3 separate regions of the Homo sapiens genome follow, and regions 2 and 3 are each linked to region 1. The links come from fine-mapping of genetic effects on plasma protein levels. A gene starts in region 1. Each other region holds a variant in brackets. All regions are shown on one strand. Distances are between the middles of the regions. Region 1 holds the start of CA9 (carbonic anhydrase 9). Region 2 overlaps UBE2R2-AS1 (UBE2R2 antisense RNA 1). Region 3 overlaps GLIPR2 (GLI pathogenesis related 2).

The links. PIP is the chance, under the fine-mapping model, that this variant and not a neighbour inherited with it causes the effect. Protein levels are from antibody-based Olink assays in UK Biobank. Linkage for the fine-mapping came from a reference panel and not from the study's own genotypes, which makes the PIPs less certain.
Region 2: its variant is fine-mapped to the plasma level of the CA9 protein (UK Biobank, PIP above 0.99).
Region 3: its variant is fine-mapped to the plasma level of the CA9 protein (UK Biobank, PIP above 0.99).

What each region holds. Positions count from the first base shown.
Region 1 is chr9:35,670,174-35,677,886 of GRCh38, forward strand. CA9 (carbonic anhydrase 9) reads left to right here and starts at 3,755. Exons shown (of 11, transcript NM_001216.3): 1 at 3,755-4,189; 2 at 5,365-5,394; 3 at 5,588-5,758; 4 at 5,891-6,033; 5 at 6,124-6,216; 6 at 7,617-7,683. The coding sequence starts at 3,787. It also overlaps the pseudogene RN7SL22P.
Region 2 is chr9:33,767,069-33,774,781 of GRCh38, forward strand. The region is part of intron 3 of UBE2R2-AS1 (UBE2R2 antisense RNA 1); the gene reads right to left. It also overlaps a transcript of PRSS3 not described here. Among named protein-coding and RNA genes, the nearest start is that of PRSS3, 25 kb to the right of the region's middle. The variant C/T (reference allele first, on the strand shown) is at 3,669.
Region 3 is chr9:36,155,640-36,163,352 of GRCh38, forward strand. It overlaps GLIPR2 (GLI pathogenesis related 2), which reads left to right. Exons shown (of 5, transcript NM_022343.4): 5 at 6,723-7,713. The coding sequence ends at 6,883. Among named protein-coding and RNA genes, the nearest start is that of CCIN, 9.9 kb to the right of the region's middle. RefSeq lists enhancers at 6,112-6,692, 6,693-7,273. The variant G/A (reference allele first, on the strand shown) is at 4,235.

The DNA of each region.
Region 1 (7,713 bases):
GCGAAACCCCATCTCTACAAAACAAATAAAAAAATTAGCCAGGGGTGGTGGCTTGTGCCTGTGGTCCTAGCTACTCAGGAGGCTGAGGCAGGGGGATCACTTGAGCCTAGGAGATCAAGCCTGCAGTGAGCTATGACGCCACTGTACTCCAGTCTGGGTGACAGAGTAAGACCTTGTCTCAAAAATAATAATAATGTAAAAAGTTATGTCATGTTTATGGGATAGTTGTGGACATGCACAGGTCATTGACAATGAGCTCCTTGAGGGCAGAGAATATATCTTAGTCAATTTGGTATTTCTCAAGCATCTGGCAAGGTAATCTGCAAAAAGAAAATGCTCAATAATGGCTGTTGAATAAAAGACTGACTCAATCAAGTACGGACCCTGCCCTTATGGAGCTGAAGGCCGTTAGAGCAGATAAAATGAGTTATCACCCTTATATGAGTTAGACGGTGGACAAAGTTATTATTGAGGGCAGGCAAAGAACTGGGTTGGCTCAAAGATGCCAGGGATCTTTTCCAGACTAGTGGTAGAGGGTTGGTTAAGGAGTTTCCTGAAGGAGGTGGCCTTTCATCTGAGTTTCAAAGAACAGAAGAGATTAGACAGGGAGGACAGTAAAATTTTTTTTTTTTTTTGAAACAGTCTCGCTTTGTCGCCCAGGCTGGAGTGCAGTGGCGCGATCTTGGCTTACTACAAGCTTTGCCTCCTGGGTTCACGCCATTCTCCTGCCTCAGCCTCCTGAGTAGCTGGGACTACAGGCGGCCGCCACCACGCCCGGCTAATTTTTTTTTTTTTTTTTTTTCAGTAGAGACGGGGTTTCACTATGTTAGCGACGATTTTTGTCTGTTTGTTTGTTTTTGAGACAGAGTCTCACTCTGTCGATCAGGCTGGAGTGCAGTGGCGCGATCTCGGCTCACTGCAACCTCTGCCTCCCAGGTTCAAGTGATTCTCCTGCCTCAGCCTCCTGAGTAGCTGAGATTACAGGTGCCTGCCACCATGCCCAGCTAATTTTTGTATTTTTAGTAGAGACGGGGTTTCACCATGTTGGCCAGGCTGGTCTCGAACTCCTGACCTCAGGTGATCTGCACACCTCGGCCTCCCAAAGTGCTGGTATTAGAGGCATGAGCCACTGCACCTGGCCAGTAAAACTATTTGTGACACAGCAGCAAGTGCACAAGCACTGACCTATCAGAGTTGAAGGTGGCTGAGGCACTCAAGTGGGCTCCTGGGGACTCTGTTATGCCAGGGAATACCTCTTTAGATAAGGGATCAGGAGGTCTGGAGGGTCCCTAAGGAAGAGCTAGGGTAGCAGGGGTACCCTGGAGCTAGGGGCCATGGCTATATGCCAACAGGATTAGAAATATCTTAATGTATTTAATTAACCTACACAACCATATTGGTGGGTGCCTACTGAATATTAGCCCTAGATATGGACCTGAAATGGCCTTATTCTCTTTTAGTTTGTTTAAGCCAATGGAGCCTTACTAGAATGTGAGCTACAAAACAGTAGAGCTATTCTCTATTCAATGCTGCATCTGTAGGGCCTAGAACAGCACCTGAAGGACTGGCGGAGGCTTAATAAATTGTTAAAAGGGCAGACTAGCCAGGTGTGATGGCGTGTGCCTGTAGTCCCAGCTACTTGGGAGGCTGAGGCAGGAGGATCACTTGATCCCAGGATTTCTGGGCTGTAGTGTAGTATACCAGTCAGGTGTCTGCACTAAGTTCTGCATCAACCTGGTTGCCTAAGGATGGTTGAACTGACCCAGGTGGAAATTGGAGCAGGTCAAAACTCAATGCTGATCAGTAACAGGGTCGCACCTGTAAATAGCCACCGCCCTCCAGCCTGGGCAACACAGTGAGATCCCATCTCTAAAATAAATTTTAAAAATAATTAATTAGAAAAAAAAACCAGCCTGTAATCCCAGCACTTTGGGAGGCCAAGGCGGGCAGATCACCTGAGGTCAGGAGTTCAAGACAAGCCTGGCCAACATGGCAAAACCCCAATCTCTACCAAAAATACAAAAATTAGCTGGGCGTGGTGGCAGGTGCCTGTAGTCCCAGCTACCCAGGAGGCTGAGGCAAGAGAATCGCTTGAACCTGGGAGGTGGAGATTGCAGTGGGCCGAGATCGCGCCACTTCACTCCAGCCTGGGTAGCAGAGTGCGACTCTGTCTCAAAAAAAAAAAAAAAGAAAGAAAAGAAAAGAAAAAGAAAAGAAAAGAAAAAAACTGGGAGGCCTAAGCCCATTCTTGGTGTCCTCACACTCTTCTGCCCCATCTCCTTGCACCCAGTCTTCCCCTGCAATCTGTGCTCCATACTAGCCCTCAAGCCCTCAACGTGACCTAGTATGAGAACTGGATTCTGTCACTCTCCTGCTCATAATATTTTATGCCTTCCCTTTGCCCAGAATATCATTCTCCCTATTGTTTTTACCAATGGAACTGGTATTTCTTCAAGGACATGATCAAATTTGCCTACTTCTATATTATCTTCTAAAGCAGAATTCATCTCTCTTCCCTCAATATGATGATATTGACAGGGTTTGCCCTCACTCACTAGATTGTGAGCTGCTCAGGGCAGGTAGCGTTTTTTGTTTTTGTTTTTGTTTTTCTTTTTTGAGACAGGGTCTTGCTCTGTCACCCAGGCCAGAGTGCAATGGTACAGTCTCAGCTCACTGCAGCCTCAACCGCCTCGGCTCAAACCATCATCCCATTTCAGCCTCCTGAGTAGCTGGGACTACAGGCACATGCCATTACACCTGGCTAATTTTTTTGTATTTCTAGTAGAGACAGGGTTTGGCCATGTTGCCCGGGCTGGTCTCGAACTCCTGGACTCAAGCAATCCACCCACCTCAGCCTCCCAAAATGAGGGACCGTGTCTTATTCATTTCCATGTCCCTAGTCCATAGCCCAGTGCTGGACCTATGGTAGTACTAAATAAATATTTGTTGAATGCAATAGTAAATAGCATTTCAGGGAGCAAGAACTAGATTAACAAAGGTGGTAAAAGGTTTGGAGAAAAAAATAATAGTTTAATTTGGCTAGAGTATGAGGGAGAGTAGTAGGAGACAAGATGGAAAGGTCTCTTGGGCAAGGTTTTGAAGGAAGTTGGAAGTCAGAAGTACACAATGTGCATATCGTGGCAGGCAGTGGGGAGCCAATGAAGGCTTTTGAGCAGGAGAGTAATGTGTTGAAAAATAAATATAGGTTAAACCTATCAGAGCCCCTCTGACACATACACTTGCTTTTCATTCAAGCTCAAGTTTGTCTCCCACATACCCATTACTTAACTCACCCTCGGGCTCCCCTAGCAGCCTGCCCTACCTCTTTACCTGCTTCCTGGTGGAGTCAGGGATGTATACATGAGCTGCTTTCCCTCTCAGCCAGAGGACATGGGGGCCCCAGCTCCCCTGCCTTTCCCCTTCTGTGCCTGGAGCTGGGAAGCAGGCCAGGGTTAGCTGAGGCTGGCTGGCAAGCAGCTGGGTGGTGCCAGGGAGAGCCTGCATAGTGCCAGGTGGTGCCTTGGGTTCCAAGCTGAGTCCATGGCCCCGATAACCTTCTGCCTGTGCACACACCTGCCCCTCACTCCACCCCCATCCTAGCTTTGGTATGGGGGAGAGGGCACAGGGCCAGACAAACCTGTGAGACTTTGGCTCCATCTCTGCAAAAGGGCGCTCTGTGAGTCAGCCTGCTCCCCTCCAGGCTTGCTCCTCCCCCACCCAGCTCTCGTTTCCAATGCACGTACAGCCCGTACACACCGTGTGCTGGGACACCCCACAGTCAGCCGCATGGCTCCCCTGTGCCCCAGCCCCTGGCTCCCTCTGTTGATCCCGGCCCCTGCTCCAGGCCTCACTGTGCAACTGCTGCTGTCACTGCTGCTTCTGGTGCCTGTCCATCCCCAGAGGTTGCCCCGGATGCAGGAGGATTCCCCCTTGGGAGGAGGCTCTTCTGGGGAAGATGACCCACTGGGCGAGGAGGATCTGCCCAGTGAAGAGGATTCACCCAGAGAGGAGGATCCACCCGGAGAGGAGGATCTACCTGGAGAGGAGGATCTACCTGGAGAGGAGGATCTACCTGAAGTTAAGCCTAAATCAGAAGAAGAGGGCTCCCTGAAGTTAGAGGATCTACCTACTGTTGAGGCTCCTGGAGATCCTCAAGAACCCCAGAATAATGCCCACAGGGACAAAGAAGGTAAGTGGTCATCAATCTCCAAATCCAGGTTCCAGGAGGTTCATGACTCCCCTCCCATACCCCAGCCTAGGCTCTGTTCACTCAGGGAAGGAGGGGAGACTGTACTCCCCACAGAAGCCCTTCCAGAGGTCCCATACCAATATCCCCATCCCCACTCTCGGAGGTAGAAAGGGACAGATGTGGAGAGAAAATAAAAAGGGTGCAAAAGGAGAGAGGTGAGCTGGATGAGATGGGAGAGAAGGGGGAGGCTGGAGAAGAGAAAGGGATGAGAACTGCAGATGAGAGAAAAAATGTGCAGACAGAGGAAAAAAATAGGTGGAGAAGGAGAGTCAGAGAGTTTGAGGGGAAGAGAAAAGGAAAGCTTGGGAGGTGAAGTGGGTACCAGAGACAAGCAAGAAGAGCTGGTAGAAGTCATCTCATCTTAGGCTACAATGAGGAAATTGAGACCTAGGAAGAAGGGACACAGCAGGTAGAGAAACGTGGCTTCTTGACTCCCAAGCCAGGAATTTGGGGAAAGGGGTTGGAGACCATACAAGGCAGAGGGATGAGTGGGGAGAAGAAAGAAGGGAGAAAGGAAAGATGGTGTACTCACTCATTTGGGACTCAGGACTGAAGTGCCCACTCACTTTTTTTTTTTTTTTTTTTGAGACAAACTTTCACTTTTGTTGCCCAGGCTGGAGTGCAATGGCGCGATCTCGGCTCACTGCAACCTCCACCTCCCGGGTTCAAGTGATTCTCCTGCCTCAGCCTCTAGCCAAGTAGCTGCGATTACAGGCATGCGCCACCACGCCCGGCTAATTTTTGTATTTTTAGTAGAGACGGGGTTTCGCCATGTTGGTCAGGCTGGTCTCGAACTCCTGATCTCAGGTGATCCAACCACCCTGGCCTCCCAAAGTGCTGGGATTATAGGCGTGAGCCACAGCGCCTGGCCTGAAGCAGCCACTCACTTTTACAGACCCTAAGACAATGATTGCAAGCTGGTAGGATTGCTGTTTGGCCCACCCAGCTGCGGTGTTGAGTTTGGGTGCGGTCTCCTGTGCTTTGCACCTGGCCCGCTTAAGGCATTTGTTACCCGTAATGCTCCTGTAAGGCATCTGCGTTTGTGACATCGTTTTGGTCGCCAGGAAGGGATTGGGGCTCTAAGCTTGAGCGGTTCATCCTTTTCATTTATACAGGGGATGACCAGAGTCATTGGCGCTATGGAGGTGAGACACCCACCCGCTGCACAGACCCAATCTGGGAACCCAGCTCTGTGGATCTCCCCTACAGCCGTCCCTGAACACTGGTCCCGGGCGTCCCACCCGCCGCCCACCGTCCCACCCCCTCACCTTTTCTACCCGGGTTCCCTAAGTTCCTGACCTAGGCGTCAGACTTCCTCACTATACTCTCCCACCCCAGGCGACCCGCCCTGGCCCCGGGTGTCCCCAGCCTGCGCGGGCCGCTTCCAGTCCCCGGTGGATATCCGCCCCCAGCTCGCCGCCTTCTGCCCGGCCCTGCGCCCCCTGGAACTCCTGGGCTTCCAGCTCCCGCCGCTCCCAGAACTGCGCCTGCGCAACAATGGCCACAGTGGTGAGGGGGTCTCCCCGCCGAGACTTGGGGATGGGGCGGGGCGCAGGGAAGGGAACCGTCGCGGCAGTGCCTGCCCGGGGGTTGGGCTGGCCCTACCGGGCGGGGCCGGCTCACTTGCCTCTCCCTACGCAGTGCAACTGACCCTGCCTCCTGGGCTAGAGATGGCTCTGGGTCCCGGGCGGGAGTACCGGGCTCTGCAGCTGCATCTGCACTGGGGGGCTGCAGGTCGTCCGGGCTCGGAGCACACTGTGGAAGGCCACCGTTTCCCTGCCGAGGTGAGCGCGGAGCTGGCCGAGAAGGGGCAAAGGAGCGGGGCGGAGCGGGGCCAGAGACGTGGCCCTCTCCTACCCTCGTGTCCTTTTCAGATCCACGTGGTTCACCTCAGCACCGCCTTTGCCAGAGTTGACGAGGCCTTGGGGCGCCCGGGAGGCCTGGCCGTGTTGGCCGCCTTTCTGGAGGTACCAGATCCTGGACACCCCCTACTCCCCGCTTTCCCATCCCATGCTCCTCCCGGACTCTATCGTGGAGCCAGAGACCCCATCCCAGCAAGCTCACTCAGGCCCCTGGCTGACAAACTCATTCACGCACTGTTTGTTCATTTAACACCCACTGTGAACCAGGCACCAGCCCCCAACAAGGATTCTGAAGCTGTAGGTCCTTGCCTCTAAGGAGCCCACAGCCAGTGGGGGAGGCTGACATGACAGACACATAGGAAGGACATAGTAAAGATGGTGGTCACAGAGGAGGTGACACTTAAAGCCTTCACTGGTAGAAAAGAAAAGGAGGTGTTCATTGCAGAGGAAACAGAATGTGCAAAGACTCAGAATATGGCCTATTTAGGGAATGGCTACATACACCATGATTAGAGGAGGCCAGTAAAGGGAAGGGATGGTGAGATGCCTGCTAGGTTCACTCACTCACTTTTATTTATTTATTTATTTTTTTGACAGTCTCTCTGTCGCCCAGGCTGGAGTGCAGTGGTGTGATCTTGGGTCACTGCAACTTCCGCCTCCCGGGTTCAAGGGATTCTCCTGCCTCAGCTTCCTGAGTAGCTGGGGTTACAGGTGTGTGCCACCATGCCCAGCTAATTTTTTTTTGTATTTTTAGTAGACAGGGTTTCACCATGTTGGTCAGGCTGGTCTCAAACTCCTGGCCTCAAGTGATCCGCCTGACTCAGCCTACCAAAGTGCTGATTACAAGTGTGAGCCACCGTGCCCAGCCACACTCACTGATTCTTTAATGCCAGCCACACAGCACAAAGTTCAGAGAAATGCCTCCATCATAGCATGTCAATATGTTCATACTCTTAGGTTCATAATGTTCTTAACATTAGGTTCATAAGCAAAATAAGAAAAAAGAATAATAAATAAAAGAAGTGGCATGTCAGGACCTCACCTGAAAAGCCAAACACAGAATCATGAAGGTGAATGCAGAGGTGACACCAACACAAAGGTGTATATATGGTTTCCTGTGGGGAGTATGTACGGAGGCAGCAGTGAGTGAGACTGCAAACGTCAGAAGGGCACGGGTCACTGAGAGCCTAGTATCCTAAGTAAAGTGGGCTCTCTCCCTCTCTCTCCAGCTTGTCATTGAAAACCAGTCCACCAAGCTTGTTGGTTCGCACAGCAAGAGTACATAGAGTTTGAAATAATACATAGGATTTTAAGAGGGAGACACTGTCTCTAAAAAAAAAAACAACAGCAACAACAAAAAGCAACAACCATTACAATTTTATGTTCCCTCAGCATTCTCAGAGCTGAGGAATGGGAGAGGTCTATGGGAACCCCCCTTCATGTTCCGGCCTTCAGCCATGGCCCTGGATACATGCACTCATCTGTCTTACAATGTCATCCCCCAGGAGGGCCCGGAAGAAAACAGTGCCTATGAGCAGTTGCTGTCTCGCTTGGAAGAAATCGCTGAGGAAGGTCAGTTTGTTGGTCTGGCCACTAATCTCT
Region 2 (7,713 bases), 1.9 Mb before region 1:
AAAACTTAGTAAAGTTGTTGAAATAGTTGTAGCTTGTTATACACCTGAGAGTTATTTTTCACAGTGATTTAGTAATTAAATCTATAAAAGGAAATGTGTTAATTGGCCAGGCCTGGTGGCTCACACCTGTAATCCCAGCAATTTGGGAGGCCCAGGCAGGTGGATCACCTGAGGTCAGGAGTTCGAGACCAGCCTGGCCCGACAGAGGGAGACTCTGTCTCAAAAAATAAACAGAAAAAGTAAAAAATAAAGGGAAATGTAAGTGTGAATTGATGAATGGATAAATAACATATGGCATTATGGGCAGAATTTTGTCTCCCCCACCTCCAAGTGTATGTGATGAAGTCCTCACCTCCAGTGCCTCAGAATATGCCTGTGTTTGGAGACAGGGTCTTTAAAGAAGTAATCAAGTTAAAATGAGGTCATTAGGACAGTAATCCAATATGACTGATATCCTTTAAGAGGAACTTTAGGGCCGGGCGCGGTGACTCACATCCGTAATCCCAGCACTTTGGGAGGCCAAGGCGGGTGGATCACCTGAGCTCAGGAGTTCCAGACCAGCCTGGCCAACATGGTGAAACCCCGTCTCTACTAAAAATACAAAAAATTAGCCAGGCGTGGTTGCAGACACCTGTAATCCCAGCTACTCAGGAGGCTGAGGCAGGAGAATCACTTGAACCCAGGAGGCAGAGGTTGCAGTGAGCCAAGATTGTGCCACTGCACTCCAGCCTGGGCAACAAGAGCGAACCTCTGTCTGAAAAAAAAAGGAACTTTAGACACAGACACACACAGAAAGAAGACCATCTGAAGACACAGGGTGAAAGCGGTCATCTGCAAGCCCAGGAGAGAGGCCTCAGAAGAAACCCATTCTGCCAACGCATTGGTCTCAGACTTCCAGCTTCCAGAACTGTTAGAAGATAAATGGCTGTGGTTTAAGTCCCCCAGCCTGTGGGCCTTTGTTACAGCAGCCCTGGCAACCAGTACAGATTTGGGTACCAAGAAATAGGGTGCTGGTGAGCAGACGTGGCTTTGGAACTAAACAGTGAGTAAGGGCTGGAAGAGTTTGGAGGTGCATGTTGGAAAAGGCCTAAATTGCCTTAAAGAGACTGTTGATAGAAATGTGGACATTAGCTGGGCGCTGTGGCTCACGCCTGTAATCCCAGCACTTTGGGAGGCTGAGGCGGGTGGATAACTTGAGGTCAGGAGTTCAAGACCAGCCTGGCCAACATGGTGAAACCCCGTCTCTACTAAAAATACAAAAATTAGCCAGGCGTGGTGGCATGTGCCTGTAATCCCAGCTACTCAGGAGGCTGAGGCAGAAGAATTGCTTGAACCTGAGAGGCAGAGGTTGCAGTGAGCTGAGATAGCACCACCGCAGCACTCCAGCCTGGGCAATAGAGCGAGACTCAAAGGAAAAAAAAAAACAACAACAGAAATGTGGACATTGAAGGTGATTCCAGTGAGGACTGAGAAAGAAAGAACAGAGCTGTAGAGAAAGCACCTATCAGCTGGGCACCGTGGCTCACACCTGTAATCCCAGCACTCTGGGAGGCCAAGACAGGTGGATCACCTGAGGTCAGGAGTTTGAGACCAGCCTGGCCAACATGGTGAAACCCCATCTCTACTAAAATACAAAACTTAGCCAGGTGTGGTGGCATGCACCTGTAGTCCCAGCTACTCGGGGAGCTGAGGCAGGATAATTGCTTGAGCCCGGGGGGCAGAGGTTGCAGTGAGCCAAGATCATGCCACTGCACTCCAGCCTGGGTGACAGAGAGAAACTCCGTCTCCACAAAAAAATAAAAATAAAAAAGGAAAAGAAAATGCGTCTATCATCTTAGAGAATACATGTATCATCAGGAACAGCATGTTGGTTGAAATATGAATGTTAAAGGTACTTCTGGTGAGAACTTGGACAGAAATGAGAACATGGTATTAGAAACTAGAAGAAAGATGGACCTTGTTATACAGTGGCAAAGAAATTTGTTGAATTGGATTCTCATGTTTCATGGAAAGCAGAACTTATAAATGATGAACTTGGATATTTAGCTGAGGAGATTTCTAAGCAAAATACTGAAGGTGGCCTGATTTCTTCTTGCTGCTCATAGTAAAATATGAAAGGAGAGAGATAAACTAAAAAAGGAATTTTTAGAAAAAAAGGAACCAAAACTTTTGGAAAACTCTCAGTCTATCCATTCTACAAAAAATGAGAAAGCACATTCTGGAGAAAAGACCAAGGGTGTGGCTGAACCCCCATCTGAAAAGATGGCCAATGTGATGCATGGATACAGTCAACCAACTCAGCAAGTCGGGAACAGAGATGTGGTTTTCCCAGGAACTTCTGTGGAGGGCCCTCTTGTCAAATGGCCTCGCCCCCTATGGATTGCATAGGAGGCCAACAAGGTTTTTCAGAATTTATACCAGCAGACATTGCCAGTTTGGACCAAAGGAGACAGAAATAGGAAGAAATGAAGGAAGATTCTCAGACTTCTGGAATTCTGCAGGACCAGCCAGTACAGCGATATGGCTATGATCATGAGTTATCCTTAAAGGAAAGAGAAGAATGACCCTGAAGCTAGTTCAGAGATCTGCCAGGTTGCTACTGCCACCTTGGGCCCAGGGCACACAGATTCAGGGGCAGGACTGGTGCCATTTCCTTGGTTTCAGCAGGCCAGGATGCCCCAGCCCAGGACCAAGGGGTGGGGCCACCATTTAGGGTAGAGGAATCAGGGTGATGGCCCTGGAAGGCAGGGCCACCCTGTGGACCCAGACAACAGAACACTGAGCCAAAAAGGATTATTCTCAAGCCTTGGAATTGGGCTGGGCGCGGTGGCTCACGCCTGTAATCCCAACACTTTGGGAAGCTGAGGCAGGTGGATCAGGAGTTGGAGACCAGACTGGGCAACATGGTGAAATCCTGTCTCATATAAATAGCCTTGCATGGTGGCTCATGCCTGTAATCCCAGCTACTTGGGAGGCTGAGGCAGGAGAATCACTTGAACCCAGGAGGCAGAGGTTGGAGTGAGCCAAGATCGTGCCACTGCACTCCAGCCTGGGCGACAAGGGTGAAATGAAACTGTCTCAAAAAAAAAAAAAAATTGAACGGAATTTGCCCTACCAGGTTCCAGGACAGGAGATCCATGACCACTTTCTTCTTTCCAATGTCCCACTTTTAAACTAGAAATGTCTATACTCTGCCTGTCCTGTTTGGGAAGCAGATAATTTCTTGTCTGGTCATAAAGGTTCACAGCTGGAGAAGAATTTTGCCTCAGGATGAACCATACCTCAAATCTCACCCATACCTGGTTTAGACGATACTTACATGAGATTTTGGACTTACAGTTGATGCTGGTCTGGGTTAAGACTTCTGGCACTGTTGGGATGGGGATGAGTGTATTTTGCATATGAGAAGGACATGGATTTTCAGGGAGCAGAGGACAGGGTGTTATGGGCTGAGTATGCTCTCTCCAAATTCAAATGTTGAAGTCTTATCTCCCAGTACCTCAGGATGTGACTCTTTTGAGATAAGATCTTTAAAGAAGTAATTAAATTAAAATGAGATCATTAGGGTGGGGCCCAAATGCAGTATGAGTAATGTCCTCATAAGAACACAGACACACACAAGAGGATGACTATGTGAGGACACTGAGAGAAGATGGCCACCTCCAAGC[C/T]AAGAAGAGAGGCCTCCAGAACTGAGAATGTAAATGATTGTTTAATCTGCCCAGTGTGTGGTACTGTCTTACCAGCCCTAGCAACCAGTATATGTGGTGTACCCACACAACGAAGTACCATTCAGCCATCAAAAGGACTCAGTGCTGATTCATGCTTACAACATGGAGAAACCTGGGAAATATCGTGCCAACAGAAAGGGCCAGTCACAAAAGGCCACATATTATATAATTCAATTTATGAATTGAAAGGCAAACCTGTAGAAATATAAAATGACTGGTGGCTGCCTGCTGGACACCCTGCAATGCACAGGACAGCCCCACAACAAAGACCCCTGTGGCCCAGAGTATCAGCAATGCCGAGGCTGTGAGATCCTGCTCTCACCCAGGCCTGCTTCCCAAAGCCCTTTAGTCCTGAAGAGAGAAGAGAACAGGCTGCCTTCTTTCTTTGTTATTGAAATCCCACTTACTCCCTCTTAGAGCATGTTCTTCTCCCTTTAAGACCAGCCTTGGCTGGTCTCCACCACATGTAGATGGGGCTGGGGAAGGAGAAGACTGGTGAGAGTGAGGGGTTTCTTTTCCTTTTTTTTTTTTTATGTTTTGAGATGGAGTCTTGCTCTGTCTCCCAGGCTGGAGTGCTGGAGTGCAGTGGCGCGATCTCAGCTCACTGCAACCTCTGCCTACTGGGTTCAAGAGTTTCTCCTGCCTCAGCCTCCTGAGTAGCTGGGATTACAGGTGCCCACCACCACGCCCGGCTGATTTTTGTATTTTTAGTAACAGACAGGGTTTCACTATGTTGGCCAGGCTGGTCTTGAACTCTTGACCTCAGGCAATCCGCCCGCCTCAGCCTCCCAAAGTGCTGGGATTACAGGCATGAGCCACTGCACTGGGTTTTGTTTTTTTGTTTTTTTGTTTTTTTTTTTTTTGAGACAGGGTCTCTTCTGTTGCCCAGGCTGGAGTGCAGTGACATAATCATGGCTCACTGCAGCCTCAACCTCCTGAGTAGCTGGGACTACAGGCATGCACCACCACACCCAGCTAATTTTTTTTCTTTTCTTTTCTTTTCTTTTTGTTTTTTTGTTTTTTTGGTAGAAATGGAGTTTCACCATGTTATCCAGGCTAGTTTCTTTCTTTCTTTTCTTTTTTTTTTTTTTTTGAAACTAAATCTTGCTTTATCACCCAGGCTATAGTGCAGTGGCTCAATCTCAGCTCACTGTAACCTCTGCCTCCTGGGTTCAAGCTATTCTCATGCCTCAGCCTCCCAATTAGCTGGGACTACAGGTGCCCGCCACCATGCCCAGCTCATTTTTGCATTTTTAGTAGAGATGGGGTTTCACCATGTTGGCCAGCCTGGTCTCAAATTCCTGACCTCAGGTGATCCACCCACCTCAGCCTCCCAATGTGCTGGGATTACAGGCGTAAGCCACCGCGCGCAGCCCCCAGGCTAGTCTTAAAGGGAGAAGAACATGCTCTAAGAGGGAGTTAAGTGGGATTTAAATAACAGAAAGAAGGCAGCCTGCTGTCTTCTCCCTTCAGGACTTAAAGGGCTTTGGGAAGCAGGCCTGGGTGAGAGCAGGATCTCACAGGCTCGACATTGCTGATACTCTGGGCCACAAGAGTCTTGGCTGTGGGGCCATCCTGTGCTTTGGAGGATGTTCAGCAGTGTCCCTGGTCTCCACTCAGAGAAGCCAGAGTGCCACCACCAGTCCCCGTTGTGAGCCATTGGACTCAAGAATGACCTAATGGCTTAACCTTGTACTGTGACAGAGCCTGAGTTGCCTGAATTTTAATGATACAAAGAATTTTAATTATACTAATTTTATTTTATTTTAATTTTTTTGTGAGACGGAGTTTCGCTCTTGTCGCTCTTCTTGCTTGTCTCGCCAACATCTCATGAAAAACCTTCTAGGACAGCTGGGATACCTCCAATTCATTCTTTTTAATGGTTATATAGCATCTCATAGTAAAGATAAAATATAATTTATTCATTCAAACACGTGGTTGGAACTTGAGTAGAGGCCCAAGCTCTCTGGGGTATTTGGGATCTATATATTTTGTGTCTGCCGCCACAAACTGGGAGACATTTGCTTTAACTCTCCACCTGTGGGAGCAACGTAATGTTAGAGAGTGCTGGTTGCCAAGCCTAGGCACTCGAGGAGAAAAACAAAATTCACCTTCCCCCTTTTTCTGATCCTTCCATTCATCTGGACATCTCTTCTTTCACCATTTCCTGCTTTCCCCCCTCTAAAATAAGGGAAAATTACTGCTTTGTTTTTTTAAAGCACCGTATCAAGTTTTACTTTTAACTACAGCCAAATGGCATCAACCATAATTTCTCCTTTCCTTGGCACCATTTCCTCTCTCTTCTTCTGTGCCTCTGCTTCCCTCTGGTTTCCTTGCTCCTCATTCTCCCTTACTCTTGCCTCCATTTTCTCTTTCTGACTCCTTCTATCTTATCTTCTATTTCACTTATCTCAAATGAGAGAGAGAGAGAGAGAAGGAAGGAGAGAGGGAGGGAGGGAAGGATCCAATGATCTCCCTAGATATGAAATAAAAAGGAACAGTTGCCCAAACCTCCAGTCTTCTTGGTTGCCAGCTTGGTTGCTATTTTTAATACTAGGCCATAGCAGCAAATCAGCCAGGGATTTAATAGGGAGATTCTAGAAATGAGAGTCATGGAAGTGTTGAGATGAGGTCTTCACACATCCCTAGCTGACTGAAAAAGCTATGCATCTATGGGGAAGACCTGAGACAGCACAGCAGAAAGTGAAAGGCAAAGTTACTACTTGTCCAAAACATTCAATCCTCCCCTCACACTCCCATCATATCTCATGTGAAATTAAAAAAAGAGGAAATATATTGAAATAAGAAAGTTGGGGAATTTGCCTTTGTGAAAGCACTTATTTTTTTCCTTTGGAGACAGGGTCTCACTCTGTCACCCAGCGGTGGAGTGACACGGAGTGTCAGCGGTGCGATCACGGCTCACTGCAGCCTCAACCTCACAGGCTCAAGCAATCCTCCCATCTCAGCCTCCCGAGTAGCTTGGACTACGGCGTGCCCTTCCATGCCCAGCTAATTTATTTTTAGTAGAGACAGGGGTCTCACTATGTTGCCCAGACTGATCTTGAACTCCTGGGCTCAAGCAATCTTCCTACCTCAGCCTTCCAAAGTGCTGGGATTACAGGTGTGAGCCACTGCACCTGGCCTAAAAGCATTATCTGATATTTGTTTTCCTATTCGTAAGTTTGTCCTTAGATTGAAAGGTTTTATTGTATATTGCACACACCAGTTGTGTATATTAGGAAACATTCCTTAAGTATTTTTTTATTTAACATTTATTTTATTTAAATGTTTTTAATGCTAAACCACAGCAGGGGCTTAGCCTATATTTGGAAAATGGGTTATCCAAATTATTTAGAAGTCCAAATTTTTATTGTTCTACTTGAAGTTATTTATTACCTTGTTCCTCCTGTAACTAAAAGTGACTCATCCTCCATCTCCTCCACGTGTTCCATAATGTAGCTAATCTAATGAACTAATCCATTAATTTGTTAATGGAAGAAATATAGCCCATCCCCATCAAATCAAAGTACTCAGTCTTCTATGAATCATACATAAGTTTAAATAAATTTCTACAGACATGCTGCAGGCCCTGCTGTCCACTGGTGTGAATTTTAGACGAGGTGAAAGGGAAGGGTGGGTCTTGACAAGCCGGTATCAAGTACACAGAGGCAGACAAGGACTCTGCCTTTATTTCAGGCACTGCTTTTGAGAAAAATGAGGCAGGGCAGGGAGGAGGGAAGCCGGTTAGTCAGTGTGCAATTTTGACATACATTTGCAAAGCTGGTTTTTCTGCACCTTTGCCTAGGAAAATGAAGTATAACGAGCTTGATATTGAAAGGGACCTGTGTTAAACATTAAACAAAAATGTAAATTTTTTATGTTCAAAGGAGGGTTTAAAAAAAAAGCAGGCTGGGCACAGTGGCTCACGCCTGTAATCCCAGCACTTTGGGAGGCCGAGGCAGGTGGATCACTTGAGGTCAGGAGT
Region 3 (7,713 bases), 490 kb after region 1:
ATTTAATCTACAAACATTTATTTCAGTCCTTACCATACACAGGATGCAATGGGAAGGACCGACTTTGTCTCTTCCCTAAAGAACTAGAAGAGTGTGTACACCAGTCTCTTCCTCTCTCTCCTACTTTCTTTTTTTAATTTTTTAGTAAAATAGGCTGGGTGTGGTGGCTTATTCCTGTAACTCCAGTACTTTGGGAGGCCAAGGCAAGAGGATCCCTTCATCCAGGAGCTCCAGACCAGCCTGGACAACATGGCAAGACCCCATCTCTACAAAAACAATTAAAAACTAGGCTGGGCACGGCAGCTCACACCTGTAATCCCAGCACTTTGGGAGGCTGAGGTGGGCGGATCACCTGAGGTTGGGAGTTCGAGACCAGCCTGGCCAACATGGTGAAACCTTATCTCTACTAAAAATACAAAAATTAGCCAGGCATGGTGGCGCACGCCTGTAATCCCAGCTACTTGGGAGGCTGAGGCACAACAATCGCTTGAATCTGGGAGGCGAAGGTTTCAGTAAGCCAAGATTGCACCACTGCACTCCAGCCTGGGTGACAGAGCAAGACTCCATCTCAAAAAATTAAAAAATTAAAAAATTAAAAAACTAGCTGGGTGTAGTGGCACGTGCCTGTGGTCCTGGTTACAGGAGGCTGACGTGGGAGGATTGCTTGAGTCAAGGAGTTGGAGGTTGCAGTGAACCATGATTGCACCACGGCACTCCAGCCTGGACAACAGAGTGAAGCCATGTCTAAAAAAAAAAAAAAAAAAAAAAAAAAAGAAATTGTAGTAAAGCACATATAACTGAAAATTTACCATTTTAACCATTTTAGGTATACAGTTCAGTGGGATTAAACACATTTACACTGTTATGCAATCATCGCCACCATCCATCTCTAGAATTCTTTTCATCTTCACAGATTAAAACTCAGTACCCCTTAGACCAGGGGACCCCAACTCCTGGGCAGTGGACCTGTATGGGCCCATGGCCTGTTAAGAACTGGGCCGCACAGCAGGAGGTGAGCCTGGGTGAGTAAGATTACTGCCTGAGCTCCGCCTCCTGTCAGATCAGCAGTGGCGTTAGATTCTCATAGGAGCATGAACCCTATTATGAATTCCTCACGCAAGGGATCTAGGTTGCATGCTCCTTATGAAAATCTAATGCCTGATGATCTGAGGTGGAACAGTTTCATCCTGAAACCATCTCCACCCCACCCCAACCATTGTTCTACTTTTGGTTTTAACTATTCTAGCTACCTCATATAAATGGAATCATACAATATTTGCCCATTTGTGTCTGGCTTATTTCACTTAGCATCATGTTTTCAAGGTTTACCCTTATTAGAGCACGTGTCAGAATTCCTTTTTATTTTAATTTATTTTATTTTATTATATTTTATTTGAGACGGAGTCTCACACTGTTGCCCGGGCTGGAGTGCAATGGCGTGATCTTGGCTCACTGTAACCTCTGCCTCCCGAGTTCAAGCGATTCTCCTGCCTCAGCCTCCTGAGTAGCTGGGATTATAGGCACCCGCCATCATGCCCAGCTAATTTTTTTTTTTTTTTTTTGTATTTTTAGTAGAGATGGGGTTTCACTATGTTGGCCAGGCTGGTCTCGAACTCCTGACCTCTTGATCTGCCCACCTTGGCCTCTCAAAGTGCTGAGAATACAGGCATGATCCACCACACCCAGTCTCTTTTTTATTTTTATTTTTTTATTTTTTATTTTTTTGAGATGGAGTCTCATTCTGTCGCCCAGGCTGGAGTGCAGTGGTGTAGTCTTGGCTCACTGCAACCTCTGCCTCCCAGGTTCAAGCGACTCTCCTGCCTCAGCCTCCCAAGTAGCTGGGGTTACAGGCACCCACCACCATGACCAGCTAATTTTTATATTTTTAGTAGAGACGGGGTTTCACCACATTGGCCCGGCTAGTCTCAAACTCCTGACCCCAGGTGATCCACCCGCCTTAGCTTCCCAAAGTGCTAGGATTACAGGCATGAGCCACTACGCCCGGCCTCAGAATTTCTTTTTAAAGCTGAATAATATCTGTTAAACACACACACACACACACACACACACACACATATATATATACACATATATACATATATATCTCCCACATTTTGCTTATCCTTTCACTTGTTGATGGACACTTGGGCTGTGTGTCTTTGTGGGTTTTTTTTTTGTTTTTTGTTTTTTCGAGATGGAGTCTCACTCTGTTACCCAGGCTGGAGTGCAATGGCACAGTCTCGGCTCATTGCAACCTCTGCCTCCCAGGTTCAAGCAATTCTCTTTCCTCAGCCTCCCCAGTAGCTAGGATTACAGGCGTGTGCCACCACACCTGGCTAATTTTTCTATTTTTAGTAGAGACGGGGTTTCATCACATTGGCCAGGGTGGTCTTGAACTCCTGACCTCAAGTGATCCGCCCACCTCAACCTCCCAAAGTGCTGGGATTACAGGCGTGAGCCACTGCGCCCGACCGGGCTATGTGACTTTGGGCCAATCTTTCAACCTCTCTGCTAGGAGCATGGGCGTATAAATATCTGAATCCCTGCTTTCAGTACTTTTGGGTATATACCTAGAAGTGGAATTGCTGAGTCATTGCAATTCTGTTTAATTTTTTGAGGAACTGCCATACTGTCTTCCAGAGCAGCTGTGCCATTTTACATTCCCATCAGCAGTGCACAGAAGTTCCAATTTCTCCACTTCCTTGCCAAAACTTGTTATGTTCTATTATTTTTGTTTCTGTTTTTCATAGTAACCATCCTGCTGAGTGTGAAGTGGTTGCCCTTTTTTCTTTCTTAACCACCCTATGGGAATCTTAGATACTCTGATCATGACTTTCCTCCTCCCTCCCTCCGTTTCTTCCTTTCCTCATCAAATGTTTATTGAGCATCTACTATGTGCCAGGCCCAGTGCTAAACACTAGGTATATGGTGATCAATAAAACAGATGTGGCACGTGCCCTCACATAGCTTGCCCAATCATAAGCCAGATATTTAGGAGGGAACAATCTCTTCAGTGTTGCTTTAGCAAATGAATGCCATCCTGTGACACAGAAAATAAATGTCTCATTGATCTCTGTAAATGCTAAACCATAAAGATGGAAGGGATGAACATCTGCCTCTACTCCCCAAGAAATAAGAATTTAGGCCAGGCATGGTGGCTCACGCCCGTAATCCCAACACTTTGGGAGGCTGAGGCAGGCAGATCACTTGAGGTCAGGAGTTTGAGACCAGCCTGGCCAACATGGTGAAACCCCATCTCTACTAAAGATACAAAAATTAGCTGGGCGTGATGGTGCTCACCTGTAGTCCCAGCTACTCAGGAGGCTGAGGCATGAGAATCACTTGAACACAGGAGGCAGAGGTTGCAGTGAGCTACGATCGCGCCACTGCACTCCAGCCTAGACAACAGAGAGAGACTCTGTCTCAAAAAAAAAAGAATTTATGATCGTTGAGCAAAGAATGCATTACAGCATCAACTCTTTGACTCCCAAATGGGAGGAGATTTGGAAGCTAAGCTATATTCGTAGCTTGAAAGGACAAGCGAGTGAAGGACAGGAAGCCTGAGAAATGGGAGACTGATGCTAAGAGGCCTCAGCAAGACCTAGTGGTGTCTGGAGGGTGGAGCAGTAGCTTGAAAAGGAACTGAGATGTTTGGCTCAGAGCAGAAGGATTTGAACGAGGCTGTAATGTGTCGAAGTCTCAAAAAGCTCAAAACATAGAATGCTGCACTTCTAGTGAAGGCAGAACTGGAGTCCAAGATGGATCTTCTATATTACTTTTATTCATCAGTTCCACTCATTCTTTCAAACATTTATTTTACACTTTTCATGTGCCAGGCTATGCCAAGGTACTGGGTGCATTTTGGTGATTAAAACAAACTTGGCCTCTGCCCATATGGACACATAGCCTGGTGAAGGAGCCAAACAGTAACCAAGTAATCAAGCAAATGCATCACACAAATGGGAAGAATGGTACATAGGGGAAAAAATGGTGTGGTAAGAATATCTTGGGAGGGAGATGGTCGGTAAATAAAAGGGTGTTTACAGGCTGGGCATGGTGGCTCACACCTGTAATCCCAATACTTGGCTGGGCCAAGGCGAGTGAATCACCTGAGGTCAGGAGTTCAAGACCAGCCTGACCAGTATGGTGAAACCCATCTCTACTAAAAATACAACAATTAGCCGGGCATAGTGGCGTGCACCTGTAATCCCAGCTACTTGGAAGGCTGAGGCAG[G/A]AGAATTGCTTGAACATGGGAGGTGGAGGCTGCAGTGAGCCGAGATCACGCTACTGTACTCCAGTCTGGGCAACGGTGAGACTCCGTCTCAAAAATAAATAAATAAATAAAAGGGTGTTTGCAAACGACTTCTTTGAACAAATGATATTTAGGCTAAGACCAAGGGACAAGAAGCTGTTGGTCATCAGAAGGGTGTCTTGGCCAGGCATGGTGGATCATACCTGTAATCTCAGCACTTTGGGAAACCGAGGCAATTCTCCTGCCTCAGCCTTCCCGATTAGCTGGGATTACAGGCATGCACCACCATGCCCGGCTAATTTTGTATTTTTAGTAGAGATGGGGTTTCTCCATGTTGGTCAGGCTGGTCTCCAACTCCCAACCTAAGATGATCCGCCCACCTCGGCCTCTCGAAGTGCTGGCATTGCAGGCGTGAGTCACGGCGCCCGGCCTTACAAATACTTTTTGAAAAATGATTCGGCAGTGGCGGCATGTGCCTGTGGTCCCAGCTACTCAGGAAGCTGAGGTGGGAGGGTCTCCTGAGCCCTGGAGGTGGAAGCTGAAGTAAGCTATGATCATGCCACTGAACTCCATCCAGCCTAGGTGACAGAGATCCTGTCAGAAAGAAGGGAAGAGAAGAGAAAAAGAGAAGAGGAAGGGAAGGAGGGAGAGAAGAAAAAAGAGAAGAAGAAAGAAGGAAAACAGAAGAAAAAAAATGTGCAAGGGTTCTGAGGTGGGACATACTCTGGTGTGTTCAAGGAATGGAGAGGAGGCCACTGCACCAAAGGATTCACTTTCATTCTAAGTGCATTGGGGAGCGAGTGAAGGATTGTTAAGCAGGGAAGTAAATAGATATGATTTATATCTCAGAATGGTCACTCTGAATACTAAGTAGAAAATGAGGCTCACGCCTGTAATCTCAGCAGTTTGGGAGGCCGAGGTGGGCAGAGCACCTGAGGTCAGGAGTTCAACACCAGCCTGGACAACATGGTGAAACCTTGTCTCTACTAAAAATACAAAAAAATAGCTGGGCATGGTGGCACACACCTGTAGTCCCAGCTACTTGGGAGGCTGAGGTGGGAGGATCACTTAAACCAAGGAGGTGGAGGTTGCAGTGAGCTGAGATCATGACACTGCACTCCAGCCTGGGTGACAGGGTGAGACTCGTCTCAAAAAAAAAAGAAAAGAAAAAGAAAATGATTTTGAGGGGCCAAGGTGGATGCCATAGAACCAGTCAGGAGGCTATTGCAATGGTCCATGTGAGAAAAGTTTGCAATTGGGACCAAGGGTTTGGGAGTGGGTGGACCTGAGATGCATTTTAGAGTTGGATTCTTCAAGACTGAATACTAGGTTGTTGTGGGGAAAAGGAAGAAGAGGAGGGATGCAGACTCCCCCTGGCAGTGTGCACATGGAGGTACCATTGATGGAGATGGGAGGACTGGGAGAGGAATAAATCTAGGGGGACAAAAACTGGGAGTGAGGTTTGGAAAGGTTAAATCTGAGATGCCTGTGAGTCATCCATGTGGAAATGTCCAGTAATTAGTTATGTCTGGAACACAGAGCAGTGATTTGAGCTGGAGAAATAAATTTGGGAGCCAGGGAAAGATGAAATTCCCTAAAGAGAGCTTAGAGGAAAAAAAAAAAAGGGCCCAGGATTGAGCCCTGGGAAGTGTGGGTCCTTCAATATCTATAAGTGAGGGCGAGGAGGCGGAAGAGGAGGCAGTGAGACAGGAGGAATGGCAAGAGACTGTGGCATCCTAGAAACCAAAAGGGGGAGGGGTGCCTTGAAAAGGAGAAGAGTAGGAAGTGTTCCTCAGGTGTCAAGTAAGATGAAGACAAAAGGGGATCACTGGAGAGCTTCAAGATTACAGCTTGGGGACAGGGTTAGACACAGGCAGTAGGCAGTAGAGTGGCATCCTAATTGTTGGGGCCACTGGGCTTTGTCGTGATCTCTGGGAGACTGTTGGAAGGTGGTGAGGTGGGTAAGGTCTGTGTGGCTGATAGAAAGGACCTGCTTTAGAATTCAGGCAGTCTGGCCAGGCACAGTGGCTCACACCTGTAATCCCAGCACTGGGAGACTGAGGCAGGTGGATCGCCTGAGGTCAGGAGTTCGAGACCATGGTGAAACCTCATCTCTACTAAAAATACAAAAAAATTAGCTGGGCGTGGTGGCATGCACCTGTAGTCCCAGCTACTTGGGAGGCTGAGGCAGGAGAATCACTCGAACCCAGGAGGTGGAGGTTGCAGTGAGCCAAGATCATGCCACTGCACTCCAGCCTGGGTTACAGAGCGAGACTCCATCTTGGGGGAAAAAAAAAGAAGTCAGGCAGTCAGAGTGTTTTCTCTCTCCTTCCCCTGCAGGGGGTCTGTGAAGACCATGCTGACCTGAGCCTGGCAAGATGGTACAGGGGTTCAACAATCCCCTGCCACATCCTTCTTCAGGCTCTGCTAATTCAGCCGTGTCCCTCTCCCTCTGCCCGTTCCCCTACAGGACACTTCACGGCCATGGTATGGAAGAACACCAAGAAGATGGGCGTGGGGAAGGCGTCCGCAAGTGACGGGTCCTCCTTTGTGGTGGCCAGATACTTCCCAGCGGGGAATGTTGTCAATGAGGGCTTCTTCGAAGAAAACGTCCTGCCGCCGAAGAAGTAACTTGTTAAATGTAATGGGAAGGTGGCAGACTTAAGAACGTGGATATGAAGTGCCTAGAACCACCACAACCTGGCTGTGCGTCTGTCCCTGTGGGTGTATGTGCTTGTGTGTGTGATGCATGTGAGCGTCTCTGGCACACACACTTGGACATACAGTTCTGTGTGCGCTCATTCTTATTACAGGAGTGAGCAAAGGAAGCATTTACCCCGATGGTTACCTAGACCACGATTATTTGGATTGGGGGGAGGGGGGATCCGTTTTTTTTTTTTAATTTTTTGTTATTTCTAAGCAAACCTCTTTTGTACTTTTCTTACTTCTAATATCCATCCCTGGACTTTTTGTATTCCAAATGTTTGTGATGCTGAGAAGTGAAGTTCATTTTATGTGATCTTCATGCGTCGTAATCTACTTTTGGTAGATAATTAAGATTATTAAACCCTCATTTAAATGTGACATAAAATACAGCTTTAAGCACATAAATACAAAGCAGCTTCCATCAGGAACATGGAGCAGGCAGGGACTCCATTTTACAGAATTACTGAGATTTCTCAGTTGTAAAACATGATGTCATCCTGCATGCCTCCTGGAATTCTCCAATGGGGTCGCCAAACAACAAATGGAGAAAAAAAGTTTTACTTCCTTGCATTCTTCTACCTTTAAATAGCAAAGTACCACTACCACCACCACCTCTTGCCCCCTTCCCTCTTTTCTTAAACTTCTGGCATTTCAGAGCTCAGCAGGCTACCCCTGGTTTCTGGAGAGTTGGGCTAGGCCTGAAGCTCCCCCTCCCCCACCTCTGCTAGGCAGCCCAGGCCTGGTCTGGGAGACAG